Regions from separate parts of the Homo sapiens genome. Here all the other regions are linked to region 1. The links come from fine-mapping of genetic effects on gene expression. A gene starts in region 1. Each other region holds a variant in brackets. All regions are shown on one strand. Distances are between the middles of the regions.

Region 1 (4,081 bases):
GGAAAAAGATTCCAGACTTGAGGAGCATTGTGACTCACAGAATCTTGGAACCTTAGAGCGGAATGTGGATGGGATGAGTAAGGACTGTTCTGAGAAGGATAAGGAGACCTCTCACCTTGGGGCTGGGCCTGAACCAGGGAGGGGCTGAAGAAAATCAGCAAGCTGGTTCCCCTCAGGGCCTCAAGGGACCTCTGCCTGAGGAATCAGCATTTGGCTTTGTAAGCACCAGGAGTACTCCTGGAAGCTCCAGGGTAAGCAAATGGAATGAGGCGGTAATTACTTTGGCAACAGTGTGGACTGGCTGAAGCTGGGAGTCTGGTAGGCGCGGACACCCCTGGAGACTTTGGGCGAAGGGTCCACGGGGATGCCTGTGAAGACAGGAGGCCGAAGTGTAGGGAGGCCGAAGGCCTCGGGGGTCACCAGGTGGGCTGGTAGAGGAAAACACGGAGCCATGGGATGTGAGGCCTCAAGACTGCAGGCGCTGTGGGCCTTCATTTGCAGTTGATGCTCCGTTTGGGTTTCTGCTGGTTGACTGTGAGACCTGACTCCTTTCCCCAACAATGCAGACTTCAGCCAAACCTTTCCCTGATCTGGGCCTCTACATGTCAAAAGCCCACCCCTGTGACTGGGGGATGGGATTATTTTCTTCACACCTGTCACCACTCTACCTTCTAACACTGGGTTCTGGGCAACATTGTGGATGGTGGCAAAACTGGGCAGAGATGTAAGAATGTCATAACTGGAGCCGGGTAAGCCAGGGTGCTGGAGGGGAGGGCCTCCCCAAGCCAGGGTCCTGGCGAAGACGTGATTTGAGTCCATCCAGGGCAGTGCCTTGTTAGCAGGCACCCCCAGGAAGAGCCTGGGGCCACGGCCAACCGCCCAGCCACGGCCTCCTGGGCAAGAAATAACTGCTTCTCATCTCTGTACTTCTTGAGTGGGAGGCAAACAGTCACAGCCATGAAACATCTGTGGGGTCTCACTGCGGACGTGGGGGACTCCCAGCTCCTTTTTCCATGCCGTGCTTATTCTCCCACCCCTTCTCGGATGCCCCATGATGTGGAGGGGAGCCCTTCGCCCCACACTTCTGGGACACCCTCCTGACGCTCCCCTCTCCTCCCCACAACCATCCTCGCCTCCCCACAACCATCCTCGCCTCCCCCGCCGTCCGGGCCATGACAGCCACCTCAGAGCTACAGCGCACAAGGAGCGTTTCGGTCCTCATGATTTCCCAGGGAGGGAAACAGACACTCAAATACCTGCAAACCAAATTCTGTCTTTGCTATAGCGATATATTTCTCCTTTCCATGAAGAAAGAACAGAAAAAAGAAAAAGAATTTATTTAGGAGAGGAAGGAAAGGCAGTAATGATGATGGTGGAAAGGAAACGGTCTAGTTCGCCCAACAACGGAATCTGAAAGTGGTGGGGGCTGGGAAGTGGGGTAGGAAAGAAGTTCTTAGAGGCAACGCGGAATCGCCCTTCCCAGGGCTCCCCAGGAGCAGAGGTCCTGCGTAAAAAAGACTTAAAAATTGGAGCACTGGATGCCATGGATCCTTTGGATTTTGATTCCAGTTGATCCCTGGAGTAAGGTCCTAACCGGGGTCTCCCGAGGTCGTTTCGCCGTCCAGGATGGAGCAGGTCTGGCCCCTGGAAGGGCGCGCGGGCTGCTTGGGGACGGGGGCGCCTTTTCTCGCGCTTCGCGGTTTCCTCTCTCCTACTGCAGGCAGCGCGCGTTTGCAGCGTTTTGGGACCGAACTGATGCTTCTGGGAAACGAAACTAAACCTCTCTGAAGTTTCCAGCTCGGGCTTTTTTTGTTTCCCGCTATCCGGCGTGGCCCAGTCCGGGCGCGGAACGAGGGCGGGGCCGTGGCCACCGCGGCGGAAACGACCCGGGCCGGGGGCGGGCGGCGAGGACAAGGGGGCTCTGTGCGGCACCCGCCCAGCTTGCGCCCTGGGGACTGCGGCCGGGCGGCGGGGCTGGACGGGAGTGGACGGGGCTGGGCGCGGGCTGGGCGCGCTGGGCCGGCCAGGCGGCGCGCTGACCGCGGTCTCCGTGCGTCCCGCAGGCGGGGAGCTCGCACCGCCGCGCCCGGGCCGCGAGTGATGATAACCTAAGAGGCCGGCGCGGGCGGGCGTGAGCGGCGGAGGAGCCGGGCGCGGCGACACGCGGCCATGGAGCGGGAGCCGGCGGGGACCGAGGAGCCCGGGCCTCCGGGACGGCGGAGGCGCCGAGAGGGCAGGACGCGCACGGTGCGCTCCAACCTGCTGCCGCCCCCGGGCGCCGAGGACCCTGCGGCTGGCGCGGCCAAGGGCGAGCGGCGACGGCGGCGCGGGTGTGCCCAGCACCTGGCCGACAACCGGCTCAAGACTACCAAGTACACGCTGCTGTCCTTCCTGCCCAAGAACCTGTTCGAGCAGTTCCACCGCCCGGCCAACGTGTACTTTGTCTTCATCGCGCTGCTCAACTTCGTGCCGGCGGTGAACGCCTTCCAGCCCGGCCTGGCACTGGCGCCGGTGCTCTTCATCCTGGCCATCACGGCCTTCAGGGACCTGTGGGAGGACTACAGCCGCCACCGCTCCGACCACAAGATCAACCACCTGGGCTGCCTGGTCTTCAGCAGGTGAGTTGGGCGGGCGGGCGAGCGAGCGCGCGGTGGCGCAGGGCAGGGCGCCCCGGGAACTTGGTGTTGGGCACAGTGATTGGCAGGGGCTGGGTGCTTAGAAGGCAGCTCCACTCAGGGTGGAGGGCCCGGCTGCGCGGGACCCGGTGCCGACCGAAGCCACAGCGCCGCCAAGGCCTCTCTGTGCCTCCGCCGCAGCTAAAGGGGCGCCCTGGATGCGGGGACGCGTGGGGATCCCCTGTCACTCCGTGTCGGGGCCAGAATGATCCCAAGGCTAGAAACCGACGGCCGCTGGACATCCTCATCCACAGCCGCTCCCACCTGAAGTGAAAGGCAGGAAAAGCCAGCCTGGCCCCCTGGCCTGAAGTCCCTGCCTCAGTCTTCGGCCAGGCACAGTGGTCTCTGAACAGCCGGCACAGGACAGTAAAGCTCAGTCTGCTAACAGCTCGGCTCAGGACAGCAGCAAAGTGAAACTGCCGCCAAGTGCTGATATGTCTGGCACGGCCCAGGTACCAGGGCAGGGGAAATAACAGCAGTGTCCATCCTCCACTGTGAGCCATGAGCCGCGAGCCAGGCACCGCCCGGTAGCTGCCTGCCTAATTTTCTTCATCTTAACCTGCTTCCTGGGGGAAAGAGGCTGTGGGGTGTTTGTGAGCCCTGCCACGGGCAGTACCAGGGGTGACCCTGCGATGGACCACTCCTGCTCTTTTTCCCTCCCTGAGTTTTAGAGTCTCCGGCGGACCTGTCCAGAGGCCTGCGGCCTTTTCATCCTTTATGCTCTCCACCCCAGGAGAGCCCCTTGGTAGATCCATCTTGGAGCTGTGTCCAGCAGCCTGGACCACCTCAAGGCCCTGTCCCTGAGAAAGGTGGGTCGTCTTAGCTTTCCTCCAAAGCTCAGCCCATCGTTACCTCCTGCCTCACCTTGCTTGACCCCGGAACAGGGACTGAGATGGGCTTCTGAATAGAACATTAGCGGTATCTGGCTTCCATTATGCATGGGGAGACTCTAGGAAGCCCTATGCTCTCTTAGTGGCAGATTGTTCCCCTAAAAGAGGAGGGTCAGAGTGGCTCCTGCCTCTTAAACGTAGGCATTCACGAATGCCTTAGACACAGGCACTCATAGCTTGGATGAAGCCATGGATGCGTGCCTCTGTAGTTGAGTACCTTTCACCCTCCCAGCAACACTGCAGTGGTTATGCTCCATATTTTTGTAAACAGAGTAAACGGGTTCAGAGAGGTTAAGTAAACCTGCCCAGTGTCACACAGCAGCAAGGTCGTGGTACTGGGATTTGACCCAGGTCTTCCCGCCCGCACAGCTTTTTGAATATTTCTTTGCTCGTGCTTCTGAAACTTTTGTAAGAGTCACTGAAGGCGCTTGTTAAAATTACAGTTTTCCAAAGTGTCTCACTCAGCAGGCCTGGGATTGAGCCCAGGAATGTATTAGATTAGCGTGCACGTAACTC
Region 2 (4,089 bases), 180 kb after region 1:
AATTGTTTTTCTGGAGGCTACACCTGCCTTTCTTTTCCCAACCTCTCTTTCCCCTTCACACTCACCCCCTTCATTTTTCGGAGCGTCTTCTAGCAAATGCATACAGCTGCTCAGATCCAGTCAGGGCATGTTTAACTTGATAGGTTTGGTCCCAGACATTAATTCAGATTAGGCTGTGCCTGGGACTATCTGAGGAAGGCTGTGTCACACCACTCCTGGGCTTGCCGGCTCATACCTCCTTTCTCCCAGCCCTGGCATTAAATCCCCAGAACTTTGAGGCCTCAAGTGCACAGTTGTAAGCCTAAAGGTTCTCAGCTCCCGAAGGAGTGGAGGGATGAATGGGGGTGGGCAGGGAAGAATCCAAGCCCCCTTTCTATCACTTGTTAGCTGTGGGTTCTTGAGCAAGTTAATTCCTGCTTTGGATTTTTTTTTTTTTTTTTTTAAAGACAGGGTCTGATTCTGTTGCCCAGGTTGGAGTGCAGTGGCGCCACTCTAGCTTACTGTATCCTCAAACTCCTAGGCTCAAGCAATCCCCCTACCTCAGCCTCCTGAGTAGCTGGGACTACAGGCCACCATGCCCAGCTAATTTTTTCTATTTTGTAGAGACAGGGTGTCGCTATGTTGCCCAGGCTGGTGTCAAACTCCTGGCCTCAAGCTATCGTCCCATCTCTGCCTCCCAAAGTGTGGTATTATAGGCATGAACCACCATGTCCAGTCTTCTTTTAAATCTTAAAAAAACAAAGCAAAGCCTGTGAGTTGAGCCAGCTGATCCCTAATTCCCAGTTAAAATGTCTCAGATCGAAGGGAGGGCAAGAATGATGTAGGCCAAATCATTAAACACTTCAGATGCAAACAAAGGCCCTAGTGGTCACCTGGAACGGGCACAGCCTCCTGCCTGCTGCGATGAGTCCCTCCCCATTGAAGGGTGCAGAAAGGAGAAGAGGACGCCTGTTTTTATTCCATAAAAATGCCAGGCCTTTGTTAACAAGCATTAATCTACATGAGGAGTTCAAGGATAATCACTCTGCCTCCTGAAATGAGAAATTCATTAGTTTTAGGAATAAGGTGGCCTTTCTTTCCAATAAAAAGCAGAGAAGAAAGGTTTCCATAACAACAGTGGTTTGGGAAGAAAGCTTTTTGGTACTATAGGAAAAAAAATCTCAATTATCTGAGTACTTATCTTCTCTTTCTCTTGACTGTATTTGCTACCGATGACTCACTAGGCCAAGCCTGCGGGGGTGAGTGAGCGAGAGCCAGCCGTAGGAGTGAGGAAGGGAAGAAAGTCAATGAATAAAAACCAAATGTTCGTTTTCAGCATGTAGGGAAAGGCTGCATATTAAGACATTTAAATCATAGTCTGACACAGGACTTGGAGGCTGTGTGGCATGGTGGGTTATTTCAACATAAGCTATTATTTCTTATGATCTTCACAAGTCACTTTCAGGTCAAGAAGCCAAAAGCTCAGGGAGGTGAAGTGACTGAGTCAGGGTCAAAAGGGTAGATAGTTGCAGCTCCAGAACCAAGCCCAGGCCTTGCGGTGCCCAGCAGAAAATGTCTGTCTAGCGTCAGAGTTCCCTGCTGGGACTGTGCCTGCCCTCCAAGCCAAGACCCATCGCAGTTGAACAAGTTGGGTTCCTTACTCACACCGTGACCTCAGCCAAGTCATTTGATGTCTTGGAACTTCAAGTTCCCTCTCTGTATGTGGGATAAGAGCACTCGCCCTGCCTGAGTCCCAAACAAGGGAACTAACGATACCACTCACCACCATACACCGTAGGCGATCACCTATAGCTCTCCAGGGACTCTGGTGAGTCCTCTAAATGTACTGGGTCGCTTCACGCTCACAGCAGCTGCATTGGCTGAGTATCATTGGTATGCCCATGTCATGAGCAAGGAAAGCGAGACTGAGGAGTTCATGCTCTGTGCCCAGCTACATAGCTCATGAGTGTTAGAATGCTTTGCAATCACTAAACTGTCATGTCCACCGTATAAATGCACTCAGGCTGCTGATATTCAGGAATCTAGCAATAGTGAGAAGAGATCTGACCTTGCTCCCACCCCAGTGAGCAGGGGCCAGAGGTGGCTGTTCCACCTCCCTGAATCTCACTTTCCTGTTCTGCTGAGCTGGGTAGCTGTAGCTATGAGGATCAGAGATGATGCCTCTCCCTCTCCCCCCAGCAGAGGTCCCCGTGGACAATCAGGTCAC[T/C]GCAGCGATGTTGATGAGGTCATTGGCTTTGCTATTGTGCTTTTGTGTGTCCTCCCCTCAGTGGGAGTCAGTCACTGTCCACTGCACCTCCTCAGAGAGTATGCAGGTCACTAAAGAAGAGACAGGAGCAGAGATATAGCCACAGGTAGGCTTTGTCTGGGGTCACAGACAGAGGAGGGCCACTAGGGAAGATGCCACAGCTCATACTCAACTGGCCCTCTTGAAATGTGAGCAGCCCTACACCCCTGTGAAACCTTGATTTTGTTTTATGTTAATGATCCAGAGCTTGTCAAGCACAAAAATCTCATCCCCGCAAGTGCTGCTCCTGGGAATTCCCAATTCCCACTGCCAGTTCTTCTTTCTTAAGGGAGTGAGGAGGGCGAAGGGAAAGAGGAAGAGGGAGAGGCAGAGGCCAGCAGCAGGGCTCAAGGTCATGGCTGTCTTTGGCAGAAATCGCTGCCAATACATTTAATCTTGACTGTGAAACTCTGCAGGCCTGTCAGCTCCCTCGGATGAGAATCCTCAGCAATGGCTGAAGACTCGCCTGTTCCTGTTCTTCCTTTCTTGATTTCAGATGTTCGTGGGCCTCCTGTTTTGGTTCCAGTTTTTCTGTGGCTTCTCTGCATCTACCATGATTGACCAGTGGTATCTAATCTTCTTTAATCTGCTCTTCTCGTCACTTCCCCCGCTCGTGACTGGGGTGCTGGACAGGGATGTGCCAGCCAATGTGCTGCTGACCAACCCGCAGCTCTACAAGAGTGGCCAGAACATGGAGGTAAAGCTCCCCCGAGTCTCCGCCTTCCACCTCCTGAGCTCTGCCCTCCACGTTCACTCTTCCAAAGTGCCAGTCCCCCAGCCTCCCTTCAGATGGACACCCTGGACAAACTGAAATTCTAGAATTCACCATTCTAGAGGATGGAGAAAAAGGGCTGCCCTCTGCTTGGCTGCAGTGCATCAAGTGTTGTAAGCGAAACTGTCCCCCCTCCAAGAGTCTCCAGGAGCCCAAGAAAAGCCCAGAGTCCAGTCAGTCACAGGGGATCACTGAAGCTAGAGGGGGGATTTTTCTAAAGCAAGGAAGAAAATGTGACTTATTTTGAACGGGAATTAACAAGAAGACAAACCCACAAGGAAGCCACTGAGCCACTGAAAGAGCAAATAGATTTAAATACATACTGGCATTAATATACCACATAGATTCACACACTGATGACCAGCTGTTTCTAGCCAGCCATTAAAATAGACAGCAAGTGCTTTTCTTTGCCTTGAATTATTCCATGTGGGCAAAAAGAACATGGAGTCTCATTTCTCCTGCAATAATCCCTAATTCCAGATTCATTCACTGATGAGTTAACTTCCCCTGGCCACCTCTGAGAATGTTCAGTTCCCACAGAAGCAGGCCGCATGCACGGGGTGCCAGGAGGCGAAGGGCCAGGGAGGGGAGCAGGGCCTCTGCTTGTTATCTGTTGCTTCAGGGGAGTTCCCATCCTTGGCCAGGCCTCAGCCTCCTCGGCCACCTGTGGGACAAAGACGCTGGGAGTGTGTCCTGTCCTGTGGAATTAAGTGGCCCACAGGAAGAGCCTAGCCAGCACTTTCCCTAAGTGCTCAGCCAGAGCTCCTTCCCCAGTGTGTGTTTCCTGCAGGTCCCGTGCCAGCTGCTCTGGTACTTGGCAGGGTCAAATACACATTTGGTCACCCGGGTAATAGAGACTCTATTCATCTATATCAAGGTTATTTTCATTTCTGCCCATGGGTATATAGCTGTTTGCTTTTAACATTGGGACACATCCATCGTGTAATTTTAAAAGTGAAGACTCGCTCTTAAGAAACATTCTAAGGGACCCACCACCAAGAGAGGCAAAAACTGGTCAAAGTGGAAGGAATAG
Region 3 (4,089 bases), 46 kb before region 1:
ATGACTGCAGCTGACAGCCCACTTCAGATGTCCAACTTCATATTGTCACTGCCTTTGTGAGAATGACAAATCTTGCCACAGCACTTTCATAGTTCCATTCCCCTCTCCCTTTTATAAAATAATGACAAGATGTAATAGAAATATTCAGACAATTGCCCAAGCACAGCAATGATGCAGGTGCCAAAATTAAAACTTTGGCCAGCAAGCAGTTTCCTGGTAAGATTCCTCAAAATGCTGATCAGTTGATGTATAAAGTGCTCAATCAGCATGTGAAAGACAGATTGGGAGAATGAGTGCAAGTCAAACAGAACAAAATCAAGATCTCAATCTCTTTCGTCTCTAAGTGAAATGCATGTTGTGATTCAGGTTTTAGATCCCACTCTGTGCATATAACGTATTTCTGCCGCGTCATTAAACTTTCCTTGAACAGATTGGAAATGGTGTATAATGTCCACCCGATGAATTTACCTTAATAAATTTAACTATTCTCCTTTCATTAATACTTATGCTACGGGCAATTTTTATCATAAAAATTATCCTAAACTTAATATCCTTGTAGAGAAATTTTAATGTGCATTATTTTTGTAGGCAAAATGCTTAGAAGTAAAATATGACTTTAAAGGGTAAGCATTTGAATGATTCTTGATCCGTTTTGCCAAATTGCTCTCAAGAATGTGATCCTTTAATGATTACAGTCACACCAACAGGACGGAAAGCTACTGTTTTATCCTTCCTGCAAACTTTTTTTGTTTTTTTGTTTTTTTGAGTCTGAGTCTCGCTCTGTCGCCCAGGCTGGAGTGCAGTGGCGCGATCTCGGCTCACTGCAAGCTCCACCTCCCAGGTTCAAGCAGTTCTTCTGCCTCAGCCTTCAGAGTAGCTGGTACTACAAGCGTGCAACCACCAGGCCCAGCTGTATTTTTAGTAGAGACTGACTATTATCTCCTTTTTTCCTTCAGTCCTTGACAGTAGGCAAAATGCTATTTTTCTCATTTCCATTTCTATATTTGAAAGATAGAATCTCTTCATATTTATTAAGAGATTGTATTACTTTTGTGTGTGTGTTTCATTCACTTTTTATCCACCGATATTTAAAATATTCAGCATTACCCTTGTGTTTTGCTGGGATTTCTTGAATGAAACATATTCAAATTCTCCACCAATGGAGAAACCTGCTCAGAGCCAGCCAAGGTCCAGCACGGAGTTGGAGCTGACAAGCACGGCGGTGGGTGGGGAGCACCGCAAGTCAGGGTGCTGCAGAGCAGAGGCAGCGGGACTGCTGCGGGGCTCGGCGGGTGAGGAGAGGCACGGAACCCCAGGTGCCTGCGCACCGCTGCGCTCCCCAGTACCCCCATCATCAGCGGAGTGGGAGGGCTGGTCCCTGCTGGGAAAGGAGACGGAGGTTTTCATGCTTTTTGTTTTGTTTTTCTTCTGTTTTGTAGTTTTTTGTAGAGACGGGGTCTTGGTCTCACCATTTTGCCCAGCCTGGTCTCGAACTCCTGGGCCCAAGCGCTCCTCCCGCTTTGGCCTCCTAAAGTGCTTAGAGTCCAGGCGTGAGCCACCGCGCTCTGACAGGAGACAGAGGTTTTCAGACTTTCCTGTGTATCAGAATCACCTGGCCTGCTTCCTAAGACAAATGGCTGGGCCTCCCCACAGAGCCTGGGATTCAGTAGGTCTGGGGTGGGCCAGGAGAAGGAGCCTCCTAACCAGCGCGCAGGGAAAGGCCGCGCAGGGGCTGCGGCGAGGTGGGTCCCGGCGAGGTGGGTCCTGTGCACCTGCCGCGCGCGCACAGCCGCGCCTCGTTCCCTGCTTTCAGGGGCCTTCAAGCTACCCCTCAAGCGAAGAGGCAGTGCCTTCTGAGAAGGGTGTGGGTGCAGGCCATTGTGAGGTGTCAATTCTCTAAGTTCTTCATCTCCCTGCCCGACCCCCGCAGCTGGTTCACACGAAATCACCTTCCACAATGCCTCTCCATGTGACAAAAGCAGGGCTTGTGCCTGGCCCATCCCCAGTCTCAGAAAAGAGTGTAAAAGACAACCGTACCAAGAGACCCTTCTGAATAGAACCCCACGGTAGCTGATGAAACACCTTGCTCCTGCCAAGGCCTCCGCCTTCTGGCCCTGAATACTGTGCTGTCCCTATAAGCCCGGGCGTGGAACCGCCGGAATTCAGCATTGCTACAGTGCAGCTGCAAGAGTG[A/T]CCTCACCCCTTCCAACCCACCTCCACTCCCCACAAATTACTCTCAAAGGACTCACAGATCCCGAGAGAAGGTCTTACCAGAGCACAGCAAAAAAAGTGTGGAATTCTAAAAATACCTTTTGTTCTTTCCTACTTCATTAGTAGAGATATCATTAGCTAGAAGGAAAAATCTCTCCAAAAAGCAGGAGCAGTGTAGGTTAATGGTGCAGATTCTTTTCGTTGTGAATGGAATGTTTTCTCAGGACCATCGAGATATACAAGACCTGCACATTAATATTTGGTGAGCTTTCCTTCAGATTTCATGTATCATTCAATAAGGAAATCAAACTCATGTGGTCAAATAAGGTTGTAAAATATTCCAATTGCATAAATCCTCACTTTTATTTGATCAGAGAAAATGTTCATTATGCTCTGCCTTTTGTTAATACAAAATAAAAAGTATACCCCAGGGGTTAGACCAAGGACAATTTTGGTCAATTATCTTTTTAAAATGAATTTTTTTTTTTGACATTAAAAAAAAAACTCTAATTATCCTTCAAGCCAAACCCTGGAATCCAGTGCATGCTTGCCTACACATTTACTGAAGTGATATCATGGCTTCTTCTATGCTTTCCACCCATGTACCTCAGTCTAGTTACGTGTAACATTTTATTGTTAGAAATTAAGTGTTGCTGACCAGCATTGTTATCTTGTTTTTACAATTCAATAGTATACATAATGGAATTATATCTCATCGCTATTGTTTTAATCTTGCTATTGGCACTCTTAAAAGACAGATTCGATAATTTATTTCTCAATGTTTTTTGTAATATTCCTCAAATTGCATGTTAACATTTATTTATGTATAAAAATTGTCTATTTTTTTTAACAGAAATTGACTAAGATGTGACAGATGGTTTGACTTTTCAGTGCAACATCTATAAAAGCTAACATGGGATGGATGTGATGCAGAACTGTACCGCCTTCTAACAGCAAGCAATGTTCATCCATGGATACATGAATTAATTGGGAAAGAATTCTCATCTGTTTCATTAAGTGATGCATTCCCAAAACAATTTTAATAATTTTAATAATGATTTTAATGCATTTGTTGTTTTGATCAGTTTATATATATATTATGTGACAGAGAGGTATGACAGAATAATCAATAAAAGACATCAAGAAAAAATCAATATTACAATAAAATTGTGTGGAAAAGTAGAAAAAATAAACATAGAAGGAAAAACAATTTACAGTTGTCAAAGGTTTTGTTTGTGTACTTTTTTTAAGGATGATAGTGTATTTCATATTACTAGAGCACTTATATTATATTGTATACATTTAGGGCATATACATTTACTATGTATGTAGAACATATATTAATATATGTGTTTTATATATATATACACACACATACACATACACACACAGACAGTAATATTGTTTCCAGTTTTCACTTTTAACAAAATTGAATCAAGTAGTCAGATTGAAAATAATTTGTAATGATGGATTATTACATAATTTGGGGCATATAACTCCAAACACACCTAAAGTATTGAATATCGTCATAACATATACGTTATATATACACACACAATTCATACAGTATATGTTATATATACATATATAGCTATATACATATATCACATATTGTGGTAACACATAATCTGTGTGTCTGTGTATATATATATAAAACATATACTGTATTAACGTATTCTATATGTATATATATTGTGTGTATATAAATATATATATAGTTAAAGGTCAATGTTTCCGATATACCAAAATTACATTCTTTTCAGATATTTAAACTTGGGGTGAAACATGTCAACAGCCATCTTTGCAATGTGCAAAAAGGTATACAGTTTTTCAGTGTACTTTTAGGAATTTGCGAGAAAAAGTTTGGAGAGCATTACT
Region 4 (4,089 bases), 67 kb after region 1:
GAGGCTTTAGGATTCCCGCCTGAGCCCTCCTGGTGGCTATGGGACTTCAGACTGCCTGGGGCAGGGGGAGGGCTGGACAGGCACTGGTTTCCCCCACGCCTCCCAGCACTGGCTTGGGGAAGGTGCGGCCTGTATGTAGAATTCAGACCTTATAGCATGAAGCGCACACTGCACCAGGTGCCTCCAGAGTGTTGATTCGCCTCCAGGAGACTTGTTTGGAGTTTTGATATTGTTGCTTTGGGGTCCATCTCACCTGCCAGGGCAGGGCTCTCATTGCTGAGACTGCCTATGTCAGTGAAGCTGAGGAGCTCCTTAACTCCAGTGATGGGAGTAGCTGGCTGAATGCAACCCAGGGCCTCCCTCCCTCTTCCAGTTAACTAGGCCGGATTCCAGATTTGTGACCCTGACGAATTTTGCAAGGGTTATATTTTTAAGAAGCTTAAAATGAAGTCTATAACAACACAGAAGTCTTACATTTAACTCTCTCCTTGGACAACTTCTTATTGTGCTCTCTGGGTAACACACTTTCAGTTTAATCCCTGTAGATGTCCCTGGAGGATATGACATAGACGAGGAGCCAGCCCAGGGTGAGATCGGGTAGCATGGCTGTGCTGGCACGTGGAGGGTAAAGGCAGAGCTGAAGGTCTCTCTCCCCACCCTCACCCCCCAGGGCGGCAGTCTCCTGGTGATGTGCCTGCCCCAAAAGAGTGGCAGCCAGAGGAGTCCCAGCTCTGACCTTGGTGACAGAGAAGGATCTGCGTGCTGTGGAGCTGGGCTGCCCTTCTTGGATGGCTGTCCCCCGAGGAGGGGCCCAAGGATCCACTGAGCCCCCTCCAGACCTGCAGCACTGGCACCTGGAGCCCAGAGCGTGTCATGTCTCCGTATGTAGAGAGTCTGTAATTTCTAAGAGAAAACCTAGCACAAAATGGAAAAGTGTGGCAGAAAGTCAGGAAGAATTGAGTTCAAGGGAGCACAGAACCTCTGAAAGGGTGGGGTGGGGGCAGGGGCCAGGGGCCAGGGCAGCCACCATGGCACTGGCCTCAGGGGACTCTCTCTGAGGGGGCTAGCCTGTCCTCAAGCCACTGAGGAGTCCTTATTCACAAAGACATGTACTTTGTGAATTCTTTTCTGAAAAAATTACATTTCCAACTTACTAGAACTTGCAACAGCACAGATGAACCTGGAGAACATTATGTTCAGTGAAATAAGCCAGCCACACAGAGACAAACACTGCATGATCTCCCGTACGCGTGGAACCTAAAAATGTTGAATTCATAGAAGCAGAGTAGAATGGGGGTTACCAGAGGTTGGAAGGGACTTGGGGGGATTTTGGTCAAAGGATACAAAGTTTCCCTTAGACAGGAGGAGTCGTTTTAGGATCTGTTGTACAGCACAGTGACCATAGTTAATAGCAATGTGTATTTCAAAATTGCTAACAAGTAGATTTTAAATGTTCTCATCAGAAAAAAAGATCGGTATGTGAGATGTTAATGGTTTGATTTAACCATACCACAGTGTATACATGTATCAAAACATGACATTGTGCCTCATACTATATACAATTATTATTTGGCAATTAAAATTTAAATTTTTTAAACATCTCCAAAGCTACGGAAGGAGGAAGGCCTCTACAAGGCCAGCTCAAATTACGGCTGTCACCACCTTCTGTCAAGTGTCACATTGTCCTGTGGCCTAGTTGACCCATCCCAGAGGGATATCCGGCAGGTTCCAGGCAGGTAGCACCTGCCCAGGACACATGTGGCTCTGACGATGTCTGCCTCACCTGTGGAGGGTCCATGACTATGGGAGAAGGTCCCCCAGTGTGGGTGGGAAGAAGCCACGTTGTGAGGTGGGCTAGCAGCTCCCCGATGACTCATGAGTACCACGTTTGTGCATGAACGGAGGCTTCTTTTCCAACTCCAGCTGCTCGGGCATTGCTGCATGCATGCACACAGGCCATAATTAGACCATGGCAGTGTGCATTAAAGAGGCCAGTGCCACACTCATATTTATAAGCTCTGAAACAAACTACTTTTTTTTTGAGACAGGGTCTCGCTCTTTTGTTCAGGCTGAAGTGTAGTGGTGCTATTGTGGCTCACTGCAGCCTCAACCTCCTGGGCTGAAGCAATCCTCCTGCCTCAGCCTCCCAAGTAGCTGGGACCACAGGGGTACACCACCACACCTGGCTAATTTTGTTTCTGTTTTTTATAGAGCTCAGGCTAGTCTCGAACTCCTCCCACCGTGGCCTCCCAAAGTGCTGGGATTACAGATGTGAACCACCACGCCTAGCCCTGAAACAAACTATTTTCACATGTTGTCCCTGTTCGTTTTGTGTTGCTATAAAGGAATATTTGAGGCTGGATAATTTACAAAGAAAAGAGATTTATTTGGCTCACGGTTCTGCAGGCTGTACAGGAAGC[A/G]TGGCACCAGCATCTGCATCTGGTGAGAGCCTCAGCTGCTTCCTCTCATAGGGGAAGGGAGAGGCGAGCAGAATCACAGGGGTGAGGAGGGGGGTGCCAGGCTCTTTTTAACAACCAGCTCTCACAGGAACTAATAGAGCCAGAACTCTCGCACATCCCCTACACCCCCAGGGCAATCATCTATCCATGTGGGATCCACCCCCACGACCCAGACACCTCCCATGAGGCCCCACCTCTAACGCTGGGGATCGGTCTTCAGCAGAGGTCTGGAGGGGACAAACATCCACACTATAGCACATGTCAAAATTTTCCCAGTGTGTATTATTACACAGGACTGCAGAGTGAAGGAATAAAATGATATCTAAAGAAATACTTCCAGACAGATGTCTTAGTGCTAGTACCTGTCTGGCACACTTTGGGAAAGCAAGTACCCCTACTAGTAAGCATAAGTGTCATAACATATGACTAAAACCAAAATCAGAGCTCATTCTGTGGCATTAGGTTGTTATTCCCTTCATCAGAAATCCAAAAATGTTAAAACAGTTCTTGTTCCTATTTACAATAGGAAAGGTATTCAATCTCAAATCATTGGGCAGAGTGTAGGGAAGAGGCTGTCACTCTCTCTTCTCAGCAGGTGGCAGGGAAAGCCCAAGGTCGCCATTCATTAGATGTTAAACATCGGACTGGAGGTGCCAAGTTGGCGCAGGCCCTCCCTCCGTGGGCCTGTGTCTTAGTCACGTGGACGGTGGTGTCCTGTGGGCTGGGCTGTGTGGCTGTGGGCTGTGTGGCTGAGAAGGTGGGGATGCCCTGGCTGATTCAGTCCCTCAGAAGGGGGCGCTGCTCATTGTTGTATGCTTGCGCGGTCACATAAGATACCTGGGATATAGCCAGTTGTAACCTACACAATTTTCCCAAAGAAAAAACAATTGTTTTTCCTAAATAAAGATAGGAGAGAACCACTGTGATTTAGCAATGCCCATTTCTCAGCACTTCCTATCTCCCAAATACTCTAAAATTGGGAGGTATGAGCCAGTTGAGTTTTGGGCCTTCCTTAGAGCTGCTGTTCCGACCTCCAGCTGTGAGTCTTTGGACGTTGACTCAACCCCCTCTTCATCCTGATAATGGGAATGGCACACCTTCCAGGGACACTGCCAAGACTGACTGGTGACAATGACCCTGCAATGGCCTTTGTGGAATCCACGTGTGTGGCCTCCAGAGAAGATGACCATCTGCATGGCCCTTCTCACTGTATTTTACCCAAGGAGGAAAACTCAGTTTGTAGTTAGTTCTGCGTTTCAGCCTTGTTATCCATTCTCGGAATATTACCGGGTAAAGTCAGTTTCGCGAGGGCACTGCTGCTGTTGATGCTTGACTGGGAAAATTGACGTCGGCTTCCAAGCCGGGATTCACAAAGGTGTCTTAGGTCACTGCACACTGTGCCCAGGGAAATCATGTCTCCATGGTATATTTTGATCCATGTGTTAAAGTCCCCTCTATTCCCAGGGCTGGATCTTCCAAGACGGGGCAGTGTTTGTTTGCTTAAGGTACTTTACTGATCATACTCTGTAGCCCATTACAATTTAGGGATATTTGCAGTAAATATGTTATGGAGAAATATTGTGATATTTTTTGGAGATATTTCCAGAGATTTTTTTTTTGCTTCTTATAT
Region 5 (4,089 bases), 20 kb before region 1:
TGAGATGACTTTGCCCAACTGCAGGCAACTGCAGGCACTCTGAGCATGGGTGAGGTGGGTTAGGCTGAGCTAGGATATTCAGCAAGTCAGGTATATCACATGCACTTTCTACTTAAGATATTTTCCATTGACCACTGGTTCATTGTGACGTAATCCCGTCATAAGCCGAGGAGCATCTGTATTATTACTATTATTATTATTGTTATTATTATTATGGTGTGTGCACAACAAATGTTTATCAGCTTCTCATTCTCTTTTCCCAATTGTCTCATTTTTTCATTTTTCAAATATTTATGGACAATCTACTATGCGCCAGTCATTGTTGCAGGTACTGGAGCTACAGGAGAGGACAAAGTAAACACAATTTCTATCCTTTCCCTCTCATGGACTTTATATTCAAATAGGCTGGGGGCGATGTAGAAAATGATATCAACACATAGACTGTAACACCAGGTGGTGATGAGGGCTCTGAAGATAAGTAAGTCAGGAAGAAGGAAGCTGCCAAACACAACTGGAGTAGTGTCAAAAAGGTACATACCACTAATCTCAGCGCTTTGGGAGGCTGAGACAGGAGAATTGCTTGAGACCAGGAGTTTGAGACCAGCCTGGACAACATAATAAGACCCTGTCTCTACAAAAAAAAAAAAACTTAAAAATTAGTTCAGCATGGCGGTATGTGCTTGTAGTCCCAGCTACTCAGGAGGCGAGGCAGAAGTATTGCTTGAGCCCAGGAGTTTGAGGCTTCAGTGAGCTATGGTCATGCCACTGCACTCCAGCTGGGGTGAGAGAGAGACCCTGTCTCTAAAAAATAATAACAAAATGAAATAAAAAGGGACTGACTTGGATGTCAGTGCATTAGGAAAGGTCTTTGAGAAAGTTGACAGCCTAATGCAGTGACAGTGGCAGTTAGACAGGCATCGATTGCTCAGACTCACAGATCTGCAGATTATTATGAGGCGGAATCCAATATGCTGTGTACAGCAACCACATTAAAGTAAGGTTATGCATCACAGCCAAAGGGCGTCTCCCAATAAGGGGCCAAGAGAGGTCAGGGCAGGCTCCTCATGCTCCCTCTGAAAGCACTTGGCCAGATGCACCCTCTCTCAGATCAGGACCTAGGAGCTACAGAGGCATGCACTAAGCAGGCTGTTAAAGCTGAACCAAGAAGCAGAGCCAAACTGGGAAGGTGAGGTGCAAGGGACCACAGAGACTGAGTGCAGGGAGCAGAGGCAGGCAGCGGGTGTTTGCGTGCTTTTTGTAAGTATTTTGGTTCATCTTAGTGTGTCCACTTAATGGAGCTAGAATAAGTCAGCAATTTCCATGTGATAGTCCATAATTAAAAGAAATAATACCATGTTGTTATAAGGAAAAGAGAGTTGAATAAGAGGTTCTTGGCTTCATTAAGCCAATTAGATCAGTTTCCTTCTGGGAAAGGCACAATGATTCCTACCGCACCAGAGAATTCAAGTGAACCCTGACAGCTCTCAGGATTAGGAAGTATTTGCTCAAGCATGGAAGTCAAGCTTCAGGGGTGGCTAAAGAATGTCTGAGCCTGACTATGCAGATGCCACGCGTAACTAGACTGTGGGAGGATAGCATATAT[C/G]GACAGTAAGTCATCCAAAGGGCTTCTAATTTTTGACTTATTATAAAAGCATACTGCACATTCCGGGAAGTGCACACATCATAATGTACAGTTAAAGGATTACCACAAAGTAAATACAGTCATGCCAAGAAGTAGAGCATTGCCAACACTCCAGAAGATCCCTTATGCTTTCCCCAGCCACTGACACCTTTCCTTCTTAAAGGTAACAACAAAAGTAAAAAGAAATGCAAAAACCCAGGCAACTGGCATTCTGTTCAGTTAATAGAATATTACAAAACCTCACAAAGTTCCCTTAAGACCCTTTCCAATCATTTTCCACCCCTCAATGCCAGAGGCAACCATTGTTTAGACTGTTTTCCAAGCTACATTAGTTTTGCCTATCCATGGACTTCATCTACATAGAATCAAACATTAGGGAGTCTTTCATCTCTGGCTTCTTTCACTCAGCATAATGTACTGTGATTCATCTATGTTCTTGAATGTATCCTTGATATTATTGAATAACAGTCCATCATATGGAAATAACACATTTTGTTTATCCATTCACTTGTCGATAGACATTGCAGTGGTTTCTAGTTTTTGGCTATTTTGAATAAAGCTGCAATGAACAACCATTTTATGTACATATATTTTCATTTATCTAGAGTACATGACTAGGACTAGAATTGCTGATCACAGATAAACATATTTCATTAAAACAGAAACTACCACACATAGTTCCATAGTGGTTGTGCTGATGCTGGACAGGCGAGCCCCCAAATTGGGGCTTAGCCTGGGAGGGCTCTTGGCTTCACCCAGGAAAGAATTCAAGGGTGAACCGGTGGTGTTAAACAGCAACTTTGATGGCAGCACAGTGCACAGCAGTAGCAGGGGGTACTGCTCCTTGTGAAGCGGGGCTAACCACAGGCAGTGTGCCCAGAGTAGCAGCTCAGGGGGGTTCCGCAGTCATTTCATACCCACTTTTAATCACAGGCAAATCAAGGGGTGGATTATACAGAAATTTCTAGAAAAAAGATGGTAACTTCTGGGTTGTCAGGTCATTGTCATGGAAAGGGGTGGTAACTTCTGGTGTTGCCATGGCAATGGTAAACTGACATGGCACTGGTGGGCATGTCTTATGGAGAGGTGCTTTTGCCTCTTCCCTGTTTCAGCTAGTCTTCAATCTGGTCTGGAGTCTGAGCCCCACCTCTGGAGTCAAGTCCCACCTCCCGCCTCAGTACCTGCTTTACACTTCCACCTGCAATGCCTGAGAGTTCCAGCTGCTTCACATTCTTTGCCAATATTTGGTGGTATTATTCCTTTTCACTTGAGCCATTCTAATCTGTGTGTAATTGTACCACCTGGGCCTGGAGTTTCCTTTATGGGAAGGACTTTGATTTTGTTTTTATTTCTATTTTTATTCATTTTAAATTTGAGATGGACATTTGGTCTGTTGCCCAGGCTGGAGTGCAGTGACACAATCATGATTCACTGCAACCTCGACCTCCCAGGCTCAAGCAGTCCTCCTGCCTCAGTCTCCCAGGAAGCTGGGACTAAAAGTGTTCACCACCATGCCTGGCTAATTTTTTAAATTTATTTTTAAGAGAGATGAGATCTCACTATGTTTCCCAGGCTAATCTTGAAATCCTGGGCTCAAGTGATCCTCCAGCCTAGGCCTCCCAGAGTGCTGGGATTACAGGCATGAGCTACTTACTGCACCTGGCCTAGGACTTAGATTTTGAATTTAATATCTTTAACTGATATAGAGCTATTCAAATTTTACCTTCATCTTGCACTGGTTTTGGTAAACTGTTTTTCAAAGAAATATCCTATAACATCTAATTTGTTGAATGTATTAGAAGTCCACTATGTTGACTTGTTGTTGTTTTAATAACTATATGTTGTAGTGTTGCAGTGAGAGTGCGATTTCATTTAACCTCCACTTTTTTGCTATCAGTGTCATATATTTTAAATTTGCATAAGTTAGAAACCTCACAATAGATTGGTATAATTTTTTGTTTAAACAATTGCTTGCTTTTCAAAGACATTCAGAAATTAAATATAATACAGTATCTTTTTTGGTTTATATTTACAATATCCAGTCTTCTCCACTTCTTTTCACCTGAAGAACTTTTAGCTTCTCCTCTAACTCAGGTCAGCTGGTAGTGAATTCTCTCAGCTTTTGTTTATCTTAAACTGTCCTTATTTCACACTGTCCTTATTTTTGACAGATATTTCTTCCTCGATATAGAATTATAGGTTGATGGGTTTTGATGAGAAGTAGCTGAATTTATATATAATTTCTCTCTATGTAACATGTCTGGTTTTATCTGGCTATTTTAAAGATTTTCTCCTCATCTTTGATTTTCAGCTGTTTGACTCTATTGGGCCTAGTTGTATTTTTGTTTTATTTATCCTGCCTGCAGTTTTCTGAGCTTCTTGGAGGCTTATGGAAGCTTATATTTTAAACAAATTTGGGAAATAATTGGCCATTATTTTCTCAAAAC
Region 6 (4,089 bases), 72 kb after region 1:
AGGTGGAGGTTGCGGTGAGTCAGGATCGCACCACTGCACTCCAGCCTGGGGAACGAGAGCAAAACTCCATCTCAAAAAAAAAAAAAAGATTGAAAAGGAGCAACTTTTTGTAACAGATATTGGAACTGGGGCTGCAGGTGAAGTTGTGCAGGTAAAGATGGTCTCAGCGATGAGAGCCCTGCCCTGGCAGGGGAGATGGAACTCAAAGCAACAAAATTGACATTCCAAACAAGTCTCCTGGAGGTGAATTAACACTCTGGAGGTGCCTGGTGCAGTGCGTGCTTCGTGCTCTAAGATCTGAATTCTAAACGCGGGCCTCACCCTCACCAGGCCAGTGCTTGGGGGGTTGGGGTTGGACATCCACATAGAGGCTGCAGTAGGCCATCTAACCCCCGGGAGCATTTGCAGGGTCATTTAAATACATGCAACATCTGTCACCCACGTGGGTCTGGGGTTGGCCCCCTTTTCTATGACAAATGACCTGCATGGGTGTTTGTTGAGGCTTTGGGGCATCCCGCCTAAGCCCTCCTGGTGGCTATGGGACCTCAGACTGGCTGGGGCAGGGGGAGGGCTGGTGGCCACTGTCTTTGCAGAGAGCAGAGCAGGACCTCCCCAGTGTGCTGGCCCAGGGCCCTGTCTCTGGGCTCCACCCTGAGCAGGTACCTTTGCATGAAGACTCCTCTCAGCGCTGAAGCTAATGGTGGCACTGATCCAACATACTGTACTACCATGCCATGTGGGGTTGACATGAGAAAGGACAAGTAGATTAATGGAACCTAATAAGCCCAAATCAAATGATATTATCTGTAACAGAGTGGGTATGTAGGTTCAGTGGGAAAAGAACTAGTTAGCAATATTGACACAATTGGCTGTCTGGAAGAAGCAGCATTGGATGCTCAGGTCGTAACAGAGGAAAATGAACATCAGTTGGTTTGACCATTTAAATGTTTGTTTTAAAAAAAAAATACTCTGCACTCCTCCCACAAAAAACAAACAAGCAATACTTGGAAACAACATGTATAATACAGGGACATAGGTGACTGTCTTAGCCAGGCCTGGAGAAGTCAGATATATTTACCTATATAAACATCTGAAAGGATTATATAACAAAATTATGCTACAACTAGAAATGTTAAAACCGACAAACCATGGCTCTTAGAGAAAAATATTTCCAAAGCAAAAGACAGAAAAGGGGTTAATATTTTCAATATGAATGCTCTCACAGGTTTCGTGGTCAAGAAGAGAGGAAAGAATACAATAGAAAAAGTGAGGGAGGCCAGGCACGGTGGCTCACACCTGTAATCACAGTGCTTTGGGAGACTGAGGCGGGAGAATTGCTGGAGCCCAGGAGTTTGAGACCACCCTGGGCAACATAGCAAGACTCCGTCTCTACAACCAAGTTAAAAAACTGTTGGGCAGGTGGTGCATGTTAGCTACTCCCAGCTACTCCAGAGGCCAAGGTGGGAAGATTGCTTGAGCCCAGGAGGTCGAGGCTGCAGTGAGCTGTGATTGTGCCACTGCAGTAAGCTAGATTGTGCCACTGCACTCCAGCACGGGCAGCAGAGTGAAACCCTGACTCTAACTAAATAAATCAGAAGAAGAAGAAAAAAAGAAAGATTGAAGGGGAAACATGCAGAGTTAATTCACAGAGGAGCCTGCCAAGTGGTCTGGGTGGCAGGGAGATGCACATTAAAAGAAAAGTAGATGTCCTGCCCTAGCCAAGTGTGGTGGGGCACGCCTGTAATCCCAGCTACTGGGGAGGCTGAGGCAGGAGAATTGCTGAACCCAGAAGCCGGAGGTTGCAGTGAGTCGAGATCGTGCCACTGCACTCCAGCCTGGGCGACAGAGCAAGGGTCTTGAAAAAAAAAAAAAAAAACACTTGCAGGGAGGTTTTAAAAAGAC[G/A]AAGCAGCTGGTTTTGCAGAAAAAAGGGCCTGGAGACTCTTAGATACTGACGGAGGAGTGTGAATTGTTACAGCCTCTTAGGAAAAAATATTTACAATGCAAAACTTCTCCGTAGGAATAAGGAGCGCACAACTCCGGCCCATTTCCTGGGATTGTCATACCAATGAATGAATTAATGCATAAGAAATTACCTTGAAAACTCTAGAAGTGCCCCGGAGTGTTTTACATCCATTACTAGTGGGCAGTATTATTGAGATGTCTTGAGGTCTACTAAGATACTTTGAGAATGTACCATTATATGCAGAAAAGGCCACAGTAGAAATGATTTGTCAGAAAAAAAGTTTCATGTTAAAACTTACTAAGAGGTTTGTAAGTGATACTGTGTTTAGGCATCGTTTTGCTTTCGCAAACTAGTGTTTCCTGGGGAAAATAGATTTAATCTGGGTGTTCAGTGTTGCATTGTAGTGAGTAATTATGTGATGTGAGCATAGCATGGTGTGTCACTTTCTCTGGGCTGAGAGACTCTGCATCCTTTCTTCATTCTAAAAAGAGGCCAGAGGCCCTGCCCTCTGGGGGTGAGTTCCGCTGGGACAACATTCAGCCCTTTCTGACTTACCACAGAGCGACCAGTATTTTCCATTCAGCTTGACTCATTTGAGCAGTCTGCTCCATGCACACATGTGCTTCCACACATCTGGGACATTTCTTAGAGCTCACATCACCTCGAGGAGACATACAGAATAGAAAGTAGTTCAGAAAATACATTTTGTGCATCTAGTCTACACTACTGTATTTTTGGCAATTTTGGTATCAGAAGATTCACTCCAGAAAAAGCACTCCAACTATCATTTCTCACTGCCTCTCACTTTTAGTATTAGATTCAGAATCCATTAGCATGTCTCACTGAAGGAGCAGATGTTTCAGTTTATGGTGGAAGGAAGACACATTCTGGGCGTTATGCAACATACTTGGCTCACGTTCCCACTGCGGATTTTGCCATTGCTGTTTCAGTGCTGAGTTCTCACCTTCATGATTTTAAAAATACATTGGTTCTGTAAACATTTACTTAATAATCCATTTTCCAGAATCTTTGTCCTGGGTGTTTTAAAGCAGCATTTCTCAACCGGGAGCGATTTTGCACCCCCAGGAGGCATTTGACAATGTTTGGAGCTGTTTTAGGTTGTAACAACTTGTAGGGAGGGAGCCCTACTGGCATCTATAGGAGGAGGCTGGGGATGGTGCTCAGCAAAGTGCAGAGCCCAGAGCTGTCCACCATCAAGGATATCCAGCCCCAAATCTCAACAGCGCTGATGGCGGAGAAACCTTTGAAAGCTATTGTTGCTGGCATTCTGGGCTTTCTACTTCTCTGCCTGATGTATAATGAGTGTATATGAAATCTGCGATAATTTTAGAGTCTTGTTTGGTCTTTTTTAAGTGATGTAAAATTATTTTCTCTCTGTCTCTGTCACACACACACACACACACACACACACTTCTTTATTGGTCCACCATATGAAAAATAAATTCCAAGAAGGGTTTTCTTATTCCCAAGGCATCGGCCTTGGCACTAATGATTATTCCACAAGATTCTTGGATCTCTTGTGGTGATCCTCCCATTTAGGGCTCGCCTCACTGTGTCCTGGTTTCACATTTGCTGTTTGTTTAAAGTGTTACACACTTCTCCTGTTAGTTGGCCAAAGGAGTCCCCCAGGCTGACCTCACTTGGGAGGCCTCAATCTAGTTGGTCTGCATGTTAGGTTCATTAACATGTCTTCTTTTTTCTTAAAAAATGTATTCTGGCCAGGCATGGGGGCTCACTCTTGTAATCCCAGCACTTTGGGAGGCTGAGTCAGGTGGATATTTGAGCCCAGGAGTTCGAGACCAGTCTGGGCAACATGGTGAAACCCCATCTCTACAAAAAATAAAAAACAAATTAGCTGGGTGTGGTGGTGCACACCTGTCGTCCCAGCTACTTGGTAGGCTGAGGAGGGAGGATCCCTTCAGCCCTGGGAGTTGGAGGCTGCAGTGAGCTATCATCACAGCCCTGTACTGCAGCCTGAATGACAGATCAAGACCCTGTCTCAAAAACAAACATCCCCGCAAAATAACACATTACCTGTTTCATCTATAAGGCACAAAGCATCCGGATTTTTCTAGGTTTAGTCGAATGTAACACAGATTTAATTG

Direction of the effects. Positions count from the first base shown, and alleles are read on the strand shown. Sizes are in standard deviations (SD) of each study's normalised expression. Not every link is listed here.
With allele C in place of T in region 2, the expression in testis of the gene that starts at base 1,939 in region 1 is higher (small effect, 0.37 SD a copy in GTEx).

Evidence for each region.
Region 2: its variant is fine-mapped to the expression of ATP10A in testis (GTEx, PIP 0.99).
Region 3: its variant is fine-mapped to the expression of ATP10A in tibial nerve (GTEx, PIP 0.96).
Region 4: its variant is fine-mapped to the expression of ATP10A in whole blood (TOPMed, PIP above 0.99).
Region 5: its variant is fine-mapped to the expression of ATP10A in lung (TOPMed, PIP above 0.99). The same link has a PIP of 0.9 or more in fibroblasts.
Region 6: its variant is fine-mapped to the expression of ATP10A in iPS cells (iPSCORE, PIP 0.95).

The regions. Positions count from the first base shown.
Region 1 is chr15:25,861,185-25,865,265 of GRCh38, reverse strand. ATP10A (ATPase phospholipid transporting 10A (putative)) reads left to right here and starts at 1,939. Exons shown (of 21, transcript NM_024490.4): 1 at 1,939-2,618. The coding sequence starts at 2,170.
Region 2 is chr15:25,682,178-25,686,266 of GRCh38, reverse strand. ATP10A (ATPase phospholipid transporting 10A (putative)) reads left to right here. Exons shown (of 21, transcript NM_024490.4): 17 at 2,781-2,981. Among named protein-coding and RNA genes, the nearest start is that of LINC02250, 110 kb to the right of the region's middle. The variant T/C (reference allele first, on the strand shown) is at 2,207.
Region 3 is chr15:25,907,194-25,911,282 of GRCh38, reverse strand. All of the region lies in intron 1 of LINC02346 (long intergenic non-protein coding RNA 2346), which reads right to left. Among named protein-coding and RNA genes, the nearest start is that of LINC02346, 6.9 kb to the right of the region's middle. The variant A/T (reference allele first, on the strand shown) is at 2,194.
Region 4 is chr15:25,794,357-25,798,445 of GRCh38, reverse strand. The region is part of intron 1 of ATP10A (ATPase phospholipid transporting 10A (putative)); the gene reads left to right. Among named protein-coding and RNA genes, the nearest start is that of MIR4715, 52 kb to the left of the region's middle. The variant A/G (reference allele first, on the strand shown) is at 2,421.
Region 5 is chr15:25,881,586-25,885,674 of GRCh38, reverse strand. No RefSeq gene overlaps it. Among named protein-coding and RNA genes, the nearest start is that of ATP10A-DT, 18 kb to the right of the region's middle. The variant C/G (reference allele first, on the strand shown) is at 1,604.
Region 6 is chr15:25,788,872-25,792,960 of GRCh38, reverse strand. The region is part of intron 1 of ATP10A (ATPase phospholipid transporting 10A (putative)); the gene reads left to right. Among named protein-coding and RNA genes, the nearest start is that of MIR4715, 58 kb to the left of the region's middle. RefSeq lists an enhancer at 2,565-2,664. The variant G/A (reference allele first, on the strand shown) is at 1,903.